Regions from separate parts of the Homo sapiens genome. Here region 2 is linked to region 1. The links come from fine-mapping of genetic effects on gene expression. A gene starts in region 1. The other region holds a variant in brackets. All regions are shown on one strand. Distances are from middle to middle. Region 1 holds the start of ZNF76 (zinc finger protein 76). Region 2 overlaps LOC112267955 (a long non-coding RNA gene).

Evidence for each region.
Region 2: its variant is fine-mapped to the expression of ZNF76 in whole blood (TOPMed, PIP above 0.99).

Annotation. Positions count from the first base shown.
Region 1 is chr6:35,256,410-35,265,845 of GRCh38, forward strand. It overlaps ZNF76 (zinc finger protein 76), which reads left to right and starts at 3,326. Exons shown (of 14, transcript NM_003427.5): 1 at 3,326-3,432. SCUBE3-AS1 (SCUBE3 antisense RNA 1) reads right to left here and starts at 3,046. Exons shown (of 4, transcript XR_001744102.2): 1 at 2,881-3,046. RefSeq lists silencers at 3,309-3,428, 3,439-3,758.
Region 2 is chr6:35,199,258-35,209,583 of GRCh38, forward strand. LOC112267955 (a long non-coding RNA gene) reads right to left here. Exons shown (of 3, transcript XR_002956343.1): 2 at 1,544-1,626. Among named protein-coding and RNA genes, the nearest start is that of SCUBE3, 9.5 kb to the right of the region's middle. The variant TC/T (reference allele first, on the strand shown) is at 6,277.

The DNA.
Region 1 (9,436 bases):
CTCATGTCTATAAAAATAAAAAACAGGTAAAGGATTGATGTTGCACCTTATCTCCTTCTACCATTAGGTAATATTAATCCATGAATACCTGAACTAATTGGGGAGAAACACCATATTTCTCATTAACAGATGCATTTTCAATAAAAATTGTACTTTTTAGGTTTCACAAGTCATAAAAATGTTAAAAATATTTAGGAAAATTTAGTATTTAGTAATATTTAGTAAAAAAAAAAAGTTTAGTAAGTTATATACTAATGATTACAGGAAGTGAATGGAATTCAAAGTATAAGGAGAAAGAGAACCATATAAAATTTCTGTTGAAGAGCTTGTTCATATATTTTTAAGTGGATGATGGTAGGCATTAGATTTTTAGGGTACTTGGAATCCACCGGATACTTTTTTTTAATGTGAGACAGTCTCACTCTGTAGCCCAGGCTAGAGTGCAGTGGCACGATCTCAGCTCACTGCAACCTCCGCCTCCCGAGTTCAAGTGATTCTCCTGCCTCAGCCTCCCGAGTAGCTAGGACTACAGGTACGCACCACCATGCCCGGCTAATTTTTGTATTTTTAGTAGAGACAGGGTTTCACCATCTTGGCCAGGCTGGTCTCGAACTCCTGGCCTCGGGATCCGCCTGTCTCAGCCTCCCAAAGTGCTGGGATTACAAGCATGAGCCACTGTGCCTGCCCTGCCAGATACATTAAGAATGATGTAGACCAAGTGTGGTGGCTCATGCCTGTAATCTCAGCACTTTGGGAGGCCAAGGCGGGCGGATCACGAGGTCAGGAGATCGAGACCATCCTGGCTAACACCATGAAACCCCGTTTCTACTAAAAATTAGCCAGGCATGGTGGCGCATACCTGTAGTCCCAGCTACTCGGGAGGCTGAGGCAGGAGAATTGCTTGAACCTGGAAGGGGAAGTTGCAGTGAGCTGAGATTTCGCCACTGCAGCACTCCAGCCTGGTTGACAGAGCGAGACTCCGTCTCAGAAAAAAAGAATGATGTAAGTCTTAGTTTAAGATGTCAAAATTTGAAATTGTATCCTCTATAAGTATTTAAATTAATGAAGGAAAATTTAGGTATCAACTTAAAAATGAACAAGAGGTACATAGCTCTTCAAAATTCTTTTATGGGTTCATTCTAAAAAATGTCTGAAGATCACCAGCCTATATGTTGAGTGGAAGGGATAGGAGAGAAACTGCTAGCAATGGTCTTCAATACTGCCCTCCAAAATATCCTCACCAATTCTCCTGAGAACCTGAAATTACCTTCCATTAGGATCATTACTTCAGATTCAGACACTGTTTCCCAGAGCTCTTGTTAAATGTATAATTGCAGAGGTGACTGGCCATCAGATTACGATCCGTAAGGAATGTGAGAAAAGACAGATATATATATACAGAGAGAGCTATGGAAAAAGGGTGGTTGGAGAGGGACAAACTCAGGTACAGCCTGAGTTCTATTCCCTGCGGTATTTCTAACCCTCAATTCATATTATAAGAGGAGCTACTTAATCTTCTCTCTGTATCTATAAGGTACTTTTTCTTTTTCTTTTTTTTTTTCTTTTTTTGAGACGGAGTCACACTGTTGCCCGCGCTGGACTGCAATGGTGCGATCTTGGCTCACTGCAACCTCCGCCTCCCGGGTTCAAGCAATTCTCCTGCCTCAACCTCCGGAGTAGCTGGGATTACAGGCGCCCGCCACCACGCCCAGCTAATTTTTTTGTATTTTTAGTAGAGAGGGGGGGTTTCACTATGTTGACCAGGCTGGTCTCGAACTCCTGACCTCGTGATCCGCCCGCCTCAGCCTCCCAAAGTGCTGGGATTACAGGCGTTTAAGCCACGGCGCCCGGCCTATAAGTTATTTTCTATGGGAAATAACTTGTCAAACTTCCACCAAAAAGGAATGGAAAGAGGGCAGCATAGTGGCCAGGCAGTTTATTTCCATACTAGGAGATACAGAAGGGATTAATTCTAACCGTAGGAATTCTAACCATCAAATGTCACTCACTGGCCTACCTAAACTGAACTCTGGTCCCAGCCAGAACAAGTCAGGAAGAGGGGATGTCTAAGACCGAAAGGGGGGCTTTCTAGTTAAGCTCTTCAGGCAGGAGAGGAAAAGGATGCCCGCATCCCCAAAGACACCTTTAGCTACCACAAGCCCCAAACCCCGTACTTTGTAACTGTGTCTAGTTTACGTCCTTTAAAAATTATTCTTATTAAGTTAAATTGTTTTCGGGGCGGGGAAGATACAAAAGAAACCAGTTAAAGTCTGAAAGGATAGAGAGGGGAAAGTTTCTCACCTCATTCTTCCAGCCACCCAGTTCCTCTCCTAAAAGGCAATCTTTACCAGTTCCTTCTCTAACGCCCCTCCTTTTTAATTTGATTTTTTACCGAAAGCTCGCTCCCTTTTAATTTTCCCTCAGGTTTCTGAAAATTTCCCAATCGCAGCCCCTCCCAGCAGGGAAATAGTAAAGGGGCTTGGTTTTTATGTTCAACCCAAAGCAAGCCTACAAAAGGGAGTAGTCGGTTTCGAGCCTGACGGTGGAGCTGACGCGGGAATGAGAGAGAACCTGAGAAGACCGCCAGGGCGCCCTCCCTGCGGAGGCGAGTCCCTCACCGCCCCTCTACATCGTCCTTTTCAATAAGGAGCTCTTAATACCTGCAACTGCTTCCTTCAAGGGGTGGCTGGAAGATCAGTAGGCAAGGCCTGCGGACTGCGCACCTTAAAGCGCTTCGGGACCGTAAGACAGTGAGTGCTGAGCGCGCGGCCGGGAAGAAGCCTGGAGGCTCTGAGCTCGGAGGACAGAGACCGAAGCCCCAGGGCCTGCGTCCCTCACAACCTGCGCCTCCTGTCCTCCCGCGCTACTCCCGAAGCGCACCTTCTCGCCCGCAGGCCGCAGAAGTGATGACGCAAAGCCCTCGGGGCCTCCGCCACCTCCTCACGCTTCTGCTGGACCGAATCCTTGGAATGGACAGGTAGCGGTTCCCGATTGCTATAGCGACGACCCGGCTCCGAGCCGCGCCCAGGCCCTGACCCGGGCGTCGTGACGTCAGCACGCCTTCCCTGGGCGCTCAGCCTCGCTGGCCATGCGTCACCCCGGCCTTGGTGGGGGCGGGGCTCCGAAGAGCTCGGTTCAGATCCCGGCCGCCTGGGCTCCAGGAGCCCCGGAACCAGGATAAGTTGGATGGCTGCCGCGGCGAAGCGGGGGGCGGGGTGGACCGTGCCCGGTATTTTCTATACGGGTTCCGGGGCCCGGTAGAGGCGCGCCAAGAGGAAAGGAAAGTGCGGCGGCCCTGGAACCTGGATATCGCGCGAGGCAAGCTGCGCGCGGGCGGGCGGGCTATGGCGCAGGCGGGTTGTGGGGCCGGCGCTGGTGGCGGGGCCCGGTGCATGGCGGTCTGTCGGCGGAGTCGCCCTCGGGGGCTGTCAGGTTGGTGGCTGCGGGAGGAGTGGGCCAACCATGCCCAGGGCGGGAGGCCGGGCGGGCGCAGGACCCCGGGAAGGTCCCGAGCCCGGCGTGCCCACCTCCCTCCGGCCCTAGCAGGGCGGCCTGGCCGCTGGACCGCGGCCGGGCCCCCTCCCCCACCCAGGGTCCCTGCCCCTCTTTTCCGCCTTGCGGCTCCTCCCCCGTGACTCCCAAACCTCACCCCGTGACGGCGCCCGCCTCCACCCTTGTGACCCCACACCCCACCCACTGACCCCAAGACCTCACCAGGTAACCGTTGGTTATTATTCATTGGCTGCTAACCCAGGAATTTCCCCAGCACTTCTCAGAGACCCACCAACCAGTGACTCCCTCAGTTTTAATCCGGTGACTCACATGACCCTGAGATCCCCACACTCCTCCTTAGTGACCCCCAAACCTGGGTAACCCTCCTGGCCCAGTAACCCCCCCGATTCTACCTTGTGTTCCCCACAAACTCGGTGACTCCCCTCAAAACTCTGCTGGCGACTCCTAAGCCCTACTCCAATAGTTTTCCACGCACTCACCTTGTACACAACCCTCAGTATCTTTATCCTGTAGCCGTATGACCCTCGTTCCACGTCTGCCTTTATCCTAAAATCACCCCCACTGGCATCTCTCTCTGCGATCCCAGCCCTTCAGTGTCAATCAGCACATGACTTACAAGCGTCCAGCACCTTTCTGGTGCTAAGGAGGATATAGAGATTAATATGAAGTAGTAATAATTGGAGGCATCAGAGAATTCTGGATCAATCCAGAATCCAGTCAATCCAGTGTGTGGTCCCAGCTCTGTCACTGCTGTGCTTTAGGGACCTGTGAGAAGTCCCCTCCTCAGTCTGGACCTCAGTTTCTCATCATGACTGTGATGAGGTTGGGTTAGATGATCTTTGAGTTTCCTTCCGTCTGTGAAATTGTGAAATTATGCAGTTCTCAGTCAAGATAATAATTTTTTGCAATCATTTTTGTACCCCACCCTGGAAATTTCCTCTTGTAACCTCATCCCAGGATCTGCTTGCATCATGAACCTTACTCCCTCATTCCCGGATCACCCTCTTCACTCTTCATAGTGCATACCCATTTCCCTTGATCAGGCCCCATCAGTTAACATGTTTGCAAAGCAGTATAGCAGAGTGCTTCATTTGGGGGCATTGAGTTCATAACAAACCTAGGTTCCAGACTGATTCTGGCCCTTCAGCTATGGGACTTTTGGTATATTATTTAGCCTGTCTTAACTTCAGTCTCCACCTCTGCGAAGGGAGAAAATAGTAGTGCCTGACATAACATATGTAAAGCACCGGGCACCATGCCTGGCTCATGGGAACCCTTAGCATAAGCTGTTGTTAGAAATGAGAAGCTGCTATGGATCTTACTCTGTCCTGAGTGCTAGGGATTTAACAGACTGAACATGTGGCCCATACCTTGCATTATGTTGCTACTACTGACATCTTGGAATCCCTATCTTCTCATCTCTGCTGTAGCCTCACTTCTCTGGTTCTTACCCTGATTTTGCCTCAATAACGATTGGCTTGCTGAATACCTACTGTGTGCCAAGCTCTGGATATATAAGTTAAATTTACGTCTCAACAGCCCCAAGAGTTAATTATTATTATATCCACCATTTTCCCTTCCCATATTTTTGTTTGGTTGGTTGGTTGGTTTCAGAGAAATGAACCAGAAACTCTCACAGCTAAGTAGCAGAGCTAAGATTTGAACCCACAGTTTAAAAAAACAAAACAAAACCCTACTCCATTGCCTGTCTTTCCCCCAGACTTACTCAACCTCAGCTCCTTATTCCTTATTTTCTAGTAATTCCTAAATACAACATCAGCTCGTTCCTTGATCCCTAAGGTTTCTGTTCTTGAGCTCCTAGCCTCAAGAGATCCTCCCACCTTAGCCTCTCAAGTAGTTGAGATTATAGGCGTGAGCCACCAAGACTGGCCCTGACCCCCAAGGTTTCTATTACCGTTTGCCATGTAACTTGGTGACTTTCTCATCCTGCTGTTCATGACTTTTGATCTCATATCCCCTGAAGCCCCTGCACCTTGTAGGGGAGGGAAAATATCTTCTTAGGTTCATGGCTTAGGCCCCTATAACAACAGATTTAATAAGAGAAGATTATATACATTTATTTAATGTAAGTTTTATGTGACAGGAGCCTTCATAAGGAAATGAAGACCTAAAGAAATGATTAAACTTGTATATTTTTATACTAGATCTGATGAAGAGTGGATAGTTGTGGAAAAATACAAAAAGGGTAATATCAAATAGTAATAAACTGGGAGAAACTTAGCAAGGCCTGTTTGTTCAGACTCTTCTCTGTGTCCCTGTGTCTTCACAGATAAGGGTGCTTCTTTCCTCTGAGTATAGGGAGGGCACCTCTTTATGAGGAGGGTATTATGACCTGCTTCAGGGGAAAGTCAGAAAAATCCTTCCTAGGTTTTGTGATCTGCTTCAGGGGAGAAGAGCCTCAGAGAAAGTGAGAGTGACCTTCCTACTGCCATTTTCTCAAGTTGCCATATTTTGGAGTAGTGTCTTGAACCCAGTCAACTTCTCTCTTCATCCTTTGCCCAAATATCTCTTGTTCTATGAATCTTTGACGCTTCCAGCCCTTTCCCTGTGAACTCACTCACCATACAGTGTCTCCCACCTCACTGGCACTTTACCCCAAATCCTTTCATCTTGTTAAGTCCCTTAGCCCCAGGAATCCACAAGTCTGTATGCTCTAAAACCATCTAGCCCAGTTGCCTTTCATCCTATTTTTTAGTCTCAGTGTTCTACTCCCACCACCCCACCTTCTGCCATCCTCAGCCACATTCTGTGACCTGAAACCTTCATATAATTTGTCCTTCATTTAGTGACCTCTTGATGTGACTAGCTTCAATGGAATCGGCTCCTTCCATCCCAGCATGAAGCAATCCTGTATAACTTGCACACCCTCCCATTCTAAGGCCTCTCCTCTCATACCCTTGCCCAGTATCCTGTGAGATCCTGCCTCTCAGATTCCTCCCTCACCTTTTCAAACCCGGATTGTCTTTCACCCTTCCACAGGGCCTCCTCTTCCTGCCTTCCTCTTATTTGTCCCCTCAGCCATCCTCACCTCACCAATCTTGATAATTGATTACAATATAAATCTCCCTTCCATCTCAGGTCTGCTCCTTTCTTCCTCCACTCTCTTGTGCATCTATCTCCAGGGCCATGCGTATGCCCCTGCTGCTTTCAGCTCTGCTTCCTTCATATGCTGCACTGTTCCACCAAACTTCATCAGTCTCTTCGGTTTATCCAGAGAACTACACTCTTCTCTGGGAACTTCTGATGACTTCTGATAATAGATCACCAAAGGATCTTGGTTTTTTAGAGGGCAGGGAGAGAGCCCTTTGAAGTCCTTCAGAATCAATCTAGCTGTGTCTCCTGGACACCCTCCCACTATCCTATCCTGTTATGAAGCTGCTTGCTGTATATGCCCTCAGAGTAGAATGCTTTGGGTGTCAGCTTCTGCAGGCACTGAATTAGCCCCATTGTTTTCCAAGCCCTGGGAAAACTTGATAATCCCCAACCACTGAAGTCTGAAGAGTCAGTAGCAAAATGTGACATCAAAGATCCACATCCAAAAGTCTATTCTGTGGGTCACCAAATTCCCAGGTCTCTTATAATGTACTTATTGGCTGTGCAGCAATAAATACAGCAGAAACTAAAACTAGAGTTGAGGAAAGGGTATACCCTGGGTTCTACAACTGCTGTGGGTGGATTTTAAAAAGGAGTTCTTGCCTTAGATTTGTTTACTTAGGGCACAGAACTTATTCTGCCTTGTATTTGAGTTATTTGTGTACTTTTCTCAACCCCACTCTGTGAGCTCTGTGAGAACAGAGACTAGGTTTTCTTTTTTCTTTTCTTTTCGAGATGGAGTCTTACTCTGTCACCCAGGCTGGAGTGCAGTGGTGCAGTCTTGGCTCACTGCAACCTCCTCCTCCTGAGTTCAAGTGATTCTCACACCTCAGCCTCCCAAGTAGCTGGTGTTACAGGCGCCTGCAACCATGCCCAGCTAATTTTTGTATTTTTAGTAGAGACAGGGTTTCACCATGTTGGCCAGACTGATCTCTAACTCCTGACCTCAGGTGATCCACTCGCCTCAGCCTCCCAAAGTGCTAGGATTACAGGCATGAGCCACTGCACCTGGCTGGTTTTCTTTATCTTCTGTCTTCATCTCTTCCCTCACATTTAGCAGGTAGTCAGTACTTACCTGTTGGATTAAATTAACTCACTCAGAAATTCTGCATCAGGTGTACAAAAGTAAAAGCAGTTCATGTCTACATTCATTTTGTGGACACAACACCCCTCCCCAAAGTTCTCCAAACATGATAATGGGCATGTCCCTTGATTTAAACGTCGGTAATTTAGACACTTCCTTTTTTAGTCATTGCTCGGGTGGGGGAATGGGTGTAAGTGCTTTTCTTTTTCTACTGTATTTCTGGTAAGATAGGTTGTTTGACGCAGTTGCTCAAATACAGTGGTAACAGCATCAGGGGCTGTCTTATATAAATCTGTTCTCAAGAAAACAGCTAGTTTGAAATATTTAGTGTGGGTTGCAGAGACGATTAAGGAACAGAGGAAACCAAGGAGGCAAAATGTTGGTAATTTTTGAAGTTGGATAATGGGTTCAAGAGGTTCATTATACCATTCTTTCCATTTTTGTGTATGTTGGAAATCCATTATAAAAAGATTAAAGGCAGGGGCAGCTAGGTGAACAAGTGCAAATTTAGCACTGTTCCTTGGAAAACACCTCAGAGCAAATGAGCTACTGTTTCTGAATCAGTACTGTTATCTAGGTTAAGTAGTATATTTAGTCCTAACCTTTCTCTGACCTCTTCTGTTTGTGAGATATCAGGATGCTAAATTTAAAAATTAGCACCCTGCAGAATTCTGTACCTAGTGGCCTGGGAATTGTAACATCCTGGCATCAAGCACCTGTTGCACTGCTTCTCAGCTTAGGTATGGTTTCTGGTGGAATAGGGCTGGACTGGACCTGAGAAGAGGGTGAGGCAGTAAGGAGGAAAGAGGGACTGAGGGCTGGAGAGAGACCAGAGCTCTACTAGGGTCTTCCCCTTCTTGCCTAAAGGTTTCAAGTTACTGGGAGATCCTAAAGGTATATATATTCATTCATTCACTGATTCATTCATCCCACAAATATTTGGTGAATATCTGCTGTGTGCCAGGTACTTTTCTAGGTACTGGGAATAGAGCAGTGAGCTCACTGTTTGAGGAATGGACAGGGTAGAGACAGACAATAAACAAATAAGTAAAATATATATTGAGAAAATTAAGCAGAGAAGGGAGATAGAAAGTGCCAGGAGTAGGCCAGGTGCAGTGGCACACACCTGTAATCCCAGCACTTTGGGAGGCTGGGTTGGGTAGATAACATGAGGCCAGGAGTTTGAGACCAGCCTGGCCAACATGGCGAAACCCCAGCTCTACTAAAAATACAAAAATTAGCCAGGCGTGGTGGCAGGCACCTGTAATCCCAGCTACTCGGGAGGCTGAGGCACGAGAATCACTTCAACCCAGGAGGCAGAGGTTGCAGTGAGCTGAGATCACGCTGCTGCACTCCAGCCTGGGCGACAGAGCGAGACTCTGTCTCAAAAAAAAAAAAAAAAGAAGAAGAAGAAGAAGAAAATGCCAGGATTCTGGGTGTTAAAATTTTAAATAGGGTAGTTGAAGAGGTTCCCACTAAAAAGGTAACATTTGAGCAAAGACCTGAAGGAAGTTAGGGGGTAAGTCAAGCATACATCTAGGGGAAATTTATTCCAGTCAGGAAGAACAGCAAACACAAAGGCCCTGAGGCAGGAATGTGCCCTATATATTCAAGAAACATGAGGAAGCCAGCCAATACGGCTGCAGTATATTAGTGAGAGAAGAAATGGCAGATGTTGCGGTGGGGGTGAATTGGGGGCAGATCACACAGGCCACTGGCTTGTAG
Region 2 (10,326 bases), 57 kb before region 1:
TATTTTATTTGTTCCAAGAGTTTTTCTGTCATTTTGTGTATTGTAGCAGGAGAGACGGTCTTTTGCCAGCTTGACCCAAACTGCAACAATGCCTTTGTATTAGCATCACTCTGCTCCTTGTACACACATTTAACAACTAATGGTTGAAAACCTTGCAATTCTCAAATTCAGACAGGTGCTAGGCTGGCTAAATTAGAATCACCTGATAATCCATGGACCCACTCCTGGGGGCTTTGAATGCACAGCTCGGCTTGGGAATCACTGGCCCACTAAGTGGGATGAGCAGGAAAGAGAATCATGTACCCAAGACAGACCACTTTCTTTGCAGGATAGTTTGTGGCCAATGCTCGAATGCCCAGGATCTCCAGTAGCCAGGTCACTGTTTATGTCAGTGAATGGGACAGCGGGTGAGTGTGGAGATGCGGAATTTAGGGACTTCTTTCCCTCAGGACTAATAGAGGATGAGAAATTGCAAAGCCCAGTGGATAGAACTCAAGGACAAGGGAGATACAAAAAGTACAATTGAATGGAATTGAGATGAATGATTGCTGCAGGCCTCTCTCCCTCCCACAATGATATCAACTCTGCAAACCCCAGAGATCAAAATGCAGCCAGAAAATTTCCCCATCTAGAGATTTTTAAAAAAACTTTAATTGCTATCCTACTGAGGGGCCAACTCCAGCTTTGAGGAGATATATTTACTGGTTAGATTTTCAGTAATGATTATTATTGTTACTGTTAAGAAGAATACACTCATTGTCTCCAGTGAGCTCACTGTGCTGCACAAACATGACCTCATTTCTCCTCTGAATGGGGCAGGTATTGTTAACTCTGTTTTCCAAAAGAAGGACATGGAGGTCCACTGCAGTCCAACGCCTTGAGCAAGGCCACACATCAAGAGAGGGAGGGATGATGGAACCAGGCCCTGGACCTCTCCCATTTGGGTCCCAGGGCTCTTTGCAGAGATCTAGGTTCATGTGTCCGGTCAGTCCCTTGACTTCACTTAGGATCACAGAGCTGGTTCTGGGGATCCGAGGGGATCAGAGAAGTCAAGATCACCAACATCAGATACCAGGGGAGGAATAATCATCACCTTTCAGTGGCTCAGCCAATTCCATACTCCAGTCTCAGCAATCAAACCCTCCCTGGTTTGGCCCTGGTTTTGCTAGGCTCTAGCCTAACTGATTTCCCTCCCTACTTCCTCAACAACTTAGGGGACTCAACTACTTCACCCCCTTGGATCCACTCAGACTGAGAATCATATTCACATCAGACTTGTTCTTCTGCCCCATGACAAGTTCCTGCTGCCTGGATGTCACTTGGGTTAATTGCAGCACATTTTGGCCACTGTGAAATTCTTTAGGCCCCTGCTTCTGCCATCCCCTAAATTCTGTCCCAGATTACCCTCCCCACCTCCTACCCAAGCTTCAAGCCTCAGCATGCCCAGGAAACCTTCCCTTAACCTTCCAGAAGAGTCCCTCTCCCTCTCTGAACTCCTGCCACCCTTATTCATTCATTCCACAGGTAATCACCGAGGACCTACCATGTGGCAGGCAGTACAGGAGATGATGAGGACACGATAGTGAACAAGCCAGACATGGTCCCTGCTCTGATGGAGCTTACGTTCTAGTTGGGGAGAAGGGAAAAACAAAAGTAAATAATTCAGTAAGTTAAATATTTACAAGTTGTCATAAGCTAATATGAAAAGACCTCCCTAGGCCGGGCACGGTGGCTCATGCCTGTAATCCCAGCACTTTGGGAGGCTGAGGCGGGTGGATTACCTGAGATCAGGAGTTCAAGACCAGCCCGGCCAACATGGTGAAACCCTGTCTCTACTAAAAAATACAAAAATTAGCCGGGCATGGTGGCAAGCGCTTGTAATCCCAGCTACTCAGGAGGCTGAATCAGGAGAATTGCTTGAAACCAGGAGGCAGAGGTTGCAGTGAGCCGAGATCACGCCATTGTACTCCAGCCTGGGCGACAAGAGTTAAACTCCATCTCAAAAAAGCGAAAAGAAAAGGCCTCCCAGTAAAATCCAAAGAAATTAGGGCCTCTGAAACTTACTCTAAATCTGCCCATATCTCTCCATCTTCCACCCTGTCCAAGAAAGAGCTTGGTTTATCGAGGTATGTCAAAAAGGGTTATATGTGGCTAAAGGGTGATGGTAGATGACAGCAGAGGGGTACAAGGTGGGGCAGGAGAGGGAGGCAAGGCTGGACTACACAAGGCCTTGAAGGCTGGGCCAAACGGCGGATTTCATGCTCAGAACAATGAGAAGACATGGTAGGATTTTTGACCAGGGAGTAACATGGGCTGACTTACACTTTATGATGGAGATTCTCAGTGGGGCAGGGGGAAGTGAAGATAGGGGGTATGATTTCACTCCCCTCCCCCAGGGGACATGTGTCAATGTCTGTAGACATTTTTGGCTGTCGCAACGTGGGGAGGGAGTGCTGCTGCTGGCACCTAGTGGGTAGAGGCCAGGGATGCTGCTAAATGTGCTACAATGCATAGGATGGCCCCCCAACAAACGTCAATCACGTTGAGGTTGTATGGCCCAGCTTTAAAACGACTCTGGCTGCCATATGAAGGATAGATTCTCAGCCCCCAAGAGTGGAATTAGGGAGAACACCTGGAAAGCCATTTAAATCAACTTCATATAGCTATAGTATTGACCCACCTGAACCTTTCTCCCAAACCTTAACCTCCCTGATCTGGGGTCTCTGTTTTCTGTTGAGTGACAGCCAGTCAGCCAACCAGCCCAAGTCACCCTGCAAGAAGCCCCTTTGCATTTTAACAGGGACCTTCTGGAGACAATGCTTTAACCCAAAAGAACAGTCAGGCTGGCTGAGCAGCAGGGGGAGTCATGCCAAGGTATCACTGTGCAGAAGCCACCTGCTGTATGGGAGAGGATGAGGGTTTAGAGACCAACTCCAAGCACGCCCTTTTCCTCCATAGTCATAGTCAGCCCCTGTCATGCTAGCTGCTGCCAACTCGGCGCTCTCCTCCCTGACCCTGAGAATGCCAGGCCTGTACGGGCTGCAGAGGATCTGGACACTGAAAGCATGTGATGCCCTGCACTTACTGCGAGTTTATGAGTATTTACACCAGCATGTAAACCTATCATTTACAGCCTCGGCATGTAAATCAACATAGAGTTCAAGGGCTCTCCTTTTGACTCCTCCCCACCAACTTGAGGTTGGTTTTAAGATTTGGGAAGCACATGATTGAGCTGTGGTGACAATGGGAGGTCTGTGGATAAGGAACTCAAGGAGGAGGGGAAGGTCCCTCCTTAGAGGCAGGACTGGCCAAGCAGATGGTGAAGGAAGGAGAGTTTGTCTTCTGTGCCCCAGTTACGGCCCACTCTTCTACTAACACAGAGGTTGTTAACCTTTTGAGAGAGAGAGAGTTTGTGTGTGTGTGTGTGTACGTGTTGGGGTAGGGGGTGGGGGGACGGTTATGGAAATTTTGAAGAAAGCTATAGAAAACCTCTCTCTGGAAGAATGGATAATGTGGACAAAAGTTTGTATACAATTTAGGAGACTCCCAAATCCCCTTAAAGTGACAATATGAACTAATTCACACCAAAGTATAAGTGACTAACAATGTTCAGTTTATTTCCATTTAAATGGGGGAGGAAAGCCCTTAAATCGAGCTGGAGCTCTTACTAGGGAACTTCTCTAAATCAGTGGGTTGAGATACATTCTAAAGAGGCTGGAAAAGCATCTCCTAACTTCTGAAATCTCTGCATACTCCTATTGTACCTACATATAAAACTGAGTTTGGATATAGGGAAGCAACAGAGGGAGGAAGGGCGGCAGCATGTTTTTAGGCTAATTTAGACTCAAAAGGTCATCTGAAACTCCACCCAATGGGTTTTGTTGGGACTTGGGTACTAGATATTCCTGGTCAGCCAAAGTGTCTGATCTTGTTAATGGGCCAGTAAAAATTAGGGGGACAAAGGCCAAGCACTGGCTACTCAAATGAATCTCCTCTGCAAAAGCCGAGCAAGCAAGAGCAACTCGTAATGAGTTGTAACCAAGCAAACAGAGGAATCATTGTGTTTCATTAACTTTAATAGAACTTGTTAGGTTGGCTTCCAAGGGCTGTGGGACGGGAGAGAAAGCCAGACTCATCATCGGGGCTGGGGAGAAGGCTGGCTCTCGTGGACTGCCCCTGCGTTCCCCAGCACCAATCTGGAAGCAGCTGCTCTTGCTACCCCCATGGGCTCCCCAGCCCAGCACGACATCCTGGCTACACAGGCAAGGAGCCCAGGCCTCAAGGACTAATTCTTTCTTGCCAGGGTGGGGAAAGACAGAGACAAAGAGCTTAGGGCAAACCATCTCCAGGCTTGGGAAGGCCACCTGGCTCTGGGCACCTACAAAAAGGCCCCCTTCCAGGGACATCAAAAGTTCAGCTCCAATGCCCATAAGCCCCCACTAAAGGGGGGCTCTGGGCAGCCCAGAGCCCAGCCCAAGGACCACTATCAATGCCAGCCACAACCCTGTCTCCCTCTTCCTTCACCCCAGATCTGTCCAATACCAGAAAAATGAAAAACAAACAAACAGGGCCAGCAGAAAACACATCACCAAACAAACTCGCCTCACATTGTCCTCTGTGGTTGGCCAGGGCAAGAAGCCAGAGGTCGTTTGCCTGGAAAAGCCCAAGTAGCTCCTTAAGCTTGGCCCCTGAACAGTTCAGGGTTTGCCTTGTCTCCTCCAGGGCTGCCTCCTTCTCTTTCTCTCTCTTCCTTCTCCATCTCTCTTTTCCTTCTGTCCATTATTTCCCTCCCTGTCACTTCTTTTTTGTTTGTTTGTTTGTTTGAAACGGAGTCTTGCTCTGTCACCCAGGCTGGAGTACAGTGGCCAAATCTCGGCTCACTGCAAGCTCCGCCTCCTGGGGTTCACACCATTCTCCTGCCTCAGCCTCCCGAGTAGCTGGGACTCCAGGCATCCGCCACCACACCCAGCTAATTTTTTGTATTTTTAGTAGAGATGGGGTTTCACTGTGTTAGTCAGGATGGTCTTGATCTCCTGACCTCGTCATCCGCCTGCCTCAGGCTCCCAGAGTGCTGGGATTACAGGTGTGAGCCACCATGCCCAGCCCACTTCTTTTTATGTCCTCTTTTCCCCGTTTTTCTTTCTGTTCTCTTCCTGCATTCATGATGAAATAAATTCACTAAAAATCAACACATTGAAGAAATCCTGGAGCACACATAAAGCTAATTCATGAAGTGAGCCCGCCATGCTGCTACTTTGCTGTAAAGTTGCCGGGTTCCCGGAGCCTATGCAACACTGTCAGTCGCTTAGCATCTGATGGAAACAGGCTCTTCATTGTCTAGCCCCATCCCACCTTTCAGATCTTCCTCCACACTCTCTGAAATACTTGTCTCTGATTGAACCAATTATTAATTCCCTGAAGACATTCTCCTCTCCAAGTCTTTGCTCATGTTGTTCCTGCCACCTGGAAAGCCCTCACTCTCTTCACCCAACTCCATGTATGAGAATTCTATATATTCTTTGAGGTCAGCTTTAAACCCTTTCCTCCTCCACTGAGTTGTCCTCCTGCTTCCAGCTGGAATTAATCTGTGCTCTTTATGCCCTCATTAGAATTTTATGTTGGCACCTCCATGTTTGGACATTTACCACATTCTGCCTTATATTCCAATTATTTAGATGTGAATTTCTCTTGCCAAATCATAAACTTAAAAGGAGAAACCATGTCATCTTTGAATCCCCACATCCTTTAAGTCCCTGGTACATAGTAAGTGCACAATAAATGTCAAACATCAAACATTGAGTCTGTGGTTATATAGAAATACACATACAATTAGTTCCACATCTTAACTTCACCAATGTGGGCCTATTTCAAATACAATAATTTTATTTGCAAATTTGTTTGAGGCAGTGGGTTCCCTGAGTAGACTCCCAGAGGTCTGGCTTCAGGACTTCACCAAGGGCTGAAGGATGGTATGTTAGATGGCGGCACCTACTGGTAAAGGGTGGCATTACAGCTTGGATCTACCAAAGAGAAGCCACCAAATTTCTCAATCAATCCCAGCAGCATTGGACCGGGGACTGGGGACAGAGGGTAAAGACAGAAGAGCTCCTTCCGGGCTGGGTGCGGTGGCTTACACCTGTAATCCCAGCACTTTGGGAGGCCGAGGCAGGTGGATCACTTGAGGTCAGGAGTTCAAGACCAGCCTGACCAACATGGAGAAACCCTGTCTCTACTAAAAATACAAAATTAGCCGGGTGTGGTGGCGCATGCCTGTAA[TC/T]CCAGCTACTTGGGAGGCTGAGGCAGGAGAATCACTTGAACCTGGGAGGCAGAGGTTGCGGTGAGCTGAGATCGCAGCATTGCACCCCAGCCTGGACAACAAGAGCGAAATTCCGTCTCAAAAAAAAAAAAAAAAGAATGAGCTCCTCTCCCTCCTCAGTAGCCCTTAAGCTGATCAAGAGGTGGAACATCACTGAGTCTGGGTCAGGGGCCCAGGGAAGCCCGTTCTTCTTCAACATACTGCAACTTCCTACAGACTAGATTTTGCAGGACCAGAGCAGGGCACCAAGGAATGTCAGCCTGACTGTGATGTCCCTCAGCTTTGCCAAGTCAGCTCAGAAGTGGAGACGTGGCATGACGAAAAGAGAGCCTCTTGCTGCAAAAGGGAGGCAAAATTCTGTAAGGATATCAACACTCAGCAGAAGCACATAGCTGGCAAACATTCCGACGATCCTTCCTTATTGCAGGTTTTCAGCTTCTCCTAGAATGATTTTCAGCCCAATGGGAGCCCTTCTATGGAAATGTAATAGAAGCTATTGGGCAACTGAGCTTTGTTTTACAACAATTTGCTTTATGGTCTACTTGAAGTTGGTTCATGGATAAATTGAACTTTGCCCCAATACTTCCACCTATCCTTTCCTTAATCCAGGATATCCATAGGAGTGGTATTGGTAGATGAAGTGGTCCTTCTCCACCTCTCCATCTTTTCCTCTGAGGAGGGAACCCAGTGGAGATCTAGGAGAGGATAGCCATAAAGAATAGGGTAGGGGGAGGGAAAGCAAGCCACCTCTTAGCAAAATTAGGAAGTTCCTTATGAGTGTTCCTACAGCCCCCTCCTCTGACACTCACAACACATTTTTTAGGGTGTCAACTGATAACTAAAGTTTTAACTGGCAAAGGCCGTCACCCTCTCTCACAGGAATATTTGTATTTAGGGCCAAAGAACATAAGGTTTAGCTCAAAGGAGTGATTCTCCAATAATGGAATGTTAAGCATCAGTCAGAAAGATCTTTGATGAGGTGGCAGAGAATCCCCCAGGGACTTTCAAGTGGCCTCACCTAGGGTTCTCCTTCCTGGACTTGCCTCCCAGAGTTCATATGAGAGCTGCCTATAGACCCCTTTCATCTGTTCTGGCCCCAGACCTCTGACCACTCAGGCTGCTTCTTGACCAGTCTCCTACCTCTGGCTGCTTTATCTAGGCTGCCATTACCCAGTTCTTCAGACCTTTGGGGATATCCTGAGCTCTGGCTTGGAAGGTTCCAGATACGCATCTGTGTCTTCCAGACCCTGAAAGTCTCTAGCAGGAGTCCTCTCCTAGGCCCCCTGTGTGTACATGGTCTTTCCTCAGTGGGGTTTTCCACACTGCCCTTCCATTGAACACCCTCTGCTGCCCTAGGTCCTCCAGGAAACCTGAAGCATCCTCAGACGGGTGGGAGGCAGGGAGACGAGGTCAGGGAATGCTTCACTTCTCCTCTGGGGTTTGCGTGAGCTCACCCTTCCTTTATTCTTTCAGCTATTCAGTAAATATTCACTGAACACAACTATCTTCCAGGCATATGCTTAGAGCTGGGGATACAGAGGTGACCCAAATGGGTCTTGCCCTCAAAGGTTTGACAGAACTAGTGGAAGGTAAACAGACCATTAGCGATAGCCAGGGCCATCACTGGGATAGGTTTCAAGGACCACTGAGCTCCAAGTCTGCTGGGGCAGTAAAAAGACTTCCCTGCCAAGGTACCATGGAAGCTGGATCTTTTTATTTTTGTTTTTAACAGGGTCTCATTATGTAGCCCAGGCTAGAGTGCAGTGGTGAGATCACAGCTCACTGAACCTCCAACTCCTGGGCTCAAGCAGTCCTCCTACCTCAACCTCTGAGTAGCTAGGACTACAGGTGTACATCACCACTTCAGCTAATTTTTGAATTTTTTTGTAGAGACAGGGTTTCATTATGTTGCCTGGGCTGGTCTTGAACTTCTGGCCTCAAGTCATCCTCCTGCCTCAACCTCCCAAAATACTGGGATTAAAGGCATGAGCCACTACAAGATTTTAAAGGGCAGTAGTTCTCCAGCTGACAAGAACATGGTGCGTGCCAGGCATGGTGTAGCTAGGGTGTAGTGATGGTGAAGTTAGAAGACAAGCATGAAATGTCATTGGAAATAAAGGCTCAGGACTGGCACAGAAGGCCACGTACACTGTGCCAAGCAGCCAGAACTTAGCTCTGTCAGGCAGTGGCCCACAGGAGACACAAGAAGTACCTGAACTGTGGCAGCAGCAAGGGGGATCAGGAGGAGGACTGTCCTTAGGACTCTGAGGAGTCCAAATGGGGCCACTGAGTAGGTTTTGAGCTATTAACCTCAAGATGGAGATCACGGGAAGAGGACAGGTCAGGGGAGGATGTTGTGAGGAATGAGTTCAGCTGGGGGTAGGTTCAGCTTCAGGTCTTGAAAAATATCATCGGAAGTATCTATAAGTAGGTGGAAATATAGGACTAGATAGGAAGCAGAGAAGGGAGCTAGAGCTATAGATCTGCAAATTGAATATGCGGAATTAGAGCTAGGAGAAAAGTGGGGTTAGGGATATAGATTTGGTGGTCACTGGCATATTGGTGGTGCCTGGAGCCATAATGCCCCACTACGTGCTGTCCGCCTATTTCGTGAGGGACCTTCCACACAAGTCATCATCAGTAACACTCCAAACATCAGTAACAGAAGTTTATCCTCCCTATTTTCCAGATGAGGATGATAAAGCTCAAAGAGGTGAAGAAACTTGCCCAAGCTCACCCATTGACGTGGCTGGGATTTAAACTTGGGACTATTTGACCACAAAGCCAATGTTCTTTCCTTCACCCTTGCTGTCCCTCAGAGAGTCCCCTAGGGAGGTCATGTAGAGTGAGAAGTGAAAAAAGCCAAGCTAGAAGCCCAAACTCTCCAGCATGTAAGAGGCCAGCAGAGAGAAAGCAGCCAGCAGGAGATGCAGGAGAAGAAAGTGCTCCAAGAAGCGGAAGAAGAATGTTCAGAGGTTTTGGATGAGGCAGAGATGTCAGGCTAGATAAGGACCGGCAAACAGCCCTGGATATGAAGACGTGGAAGTCGCTGGAGACTTTGGGGGAGGGGTGGCAGAGGGAGTCTGGGACAGAATGCATTAGGGCCAGGGATGAAAGGGAAGCAGTGTCATGGAGACCTAGGGCAGAGAAGTTGGGAGCCTGGAAGGACAAGAGGCAGCAGGGTCTGGGTTACTTCCCTGTTGCTACTATAGGATGCTGCAGATCTTATTGTGTTTACAGGGGGAGCTGAGGTGAGACATTCAGGCAAAAGAGGGGATAACTGACAGAGCCAGCTCCCTGAAGTGGCAAGAGGGGATGAGATCCAGGTACATGTACATGGTATTAGGTTTGGCCAAAAGGATGGACCCCTCTCCCAGCAGTGGAGAGAGAAGGGAGCAGGCGATAGGAGGCTCACGTTAGATGGCTCCTGGCTTTTTGGAGAAACAGGAATTGAGGATGCTGATTGGAGAAGTATGGGGGCTGGGGTTGGCAGAAGGGAAACAAGTTTGGGAGGGCAGCTGTGTGGAAGTGGACAGGGTGCAGGCCTGGGGTGGCTGGAGATTTGCCTTGTGATGTGCAGGGGTCTGGAACCACACATCGGTGATGATGCCAGTTGGCAGGGTAGAGATTTTTGTTTCCTTAGTGAAAGCAGCTGGGGCACAGGTGGAGAGGAAGCAGGTGGCAAGGTAACTCAGGAGTGGATGTGGGCAGAGAGGAGGGGTGGGAGGAAACTGGGGTGAAGGGCCAAGGGAGCTAAACTGGAGGTGGCCTAAGTGTCTGGAGGAGAGGCTGGAACAGGTGTGGGCAGCTTGGATTGGGTTCCCTCTGCCCCATGTCTTGGCAGGGCTGCCTGTGGACCTCTCTGTAAAGCCAACACTAAGGGCCTGGGAACAAGGTACTCCTAAAATCCCAGCGCTGGGAAACAGACTTTGAGAGAGGGTTACTTCCAAGCCTCTGCCTATATGGCAAAATGACTCCTGAGCTACCCTGAAGGAGTGCAAAGCAAGGAC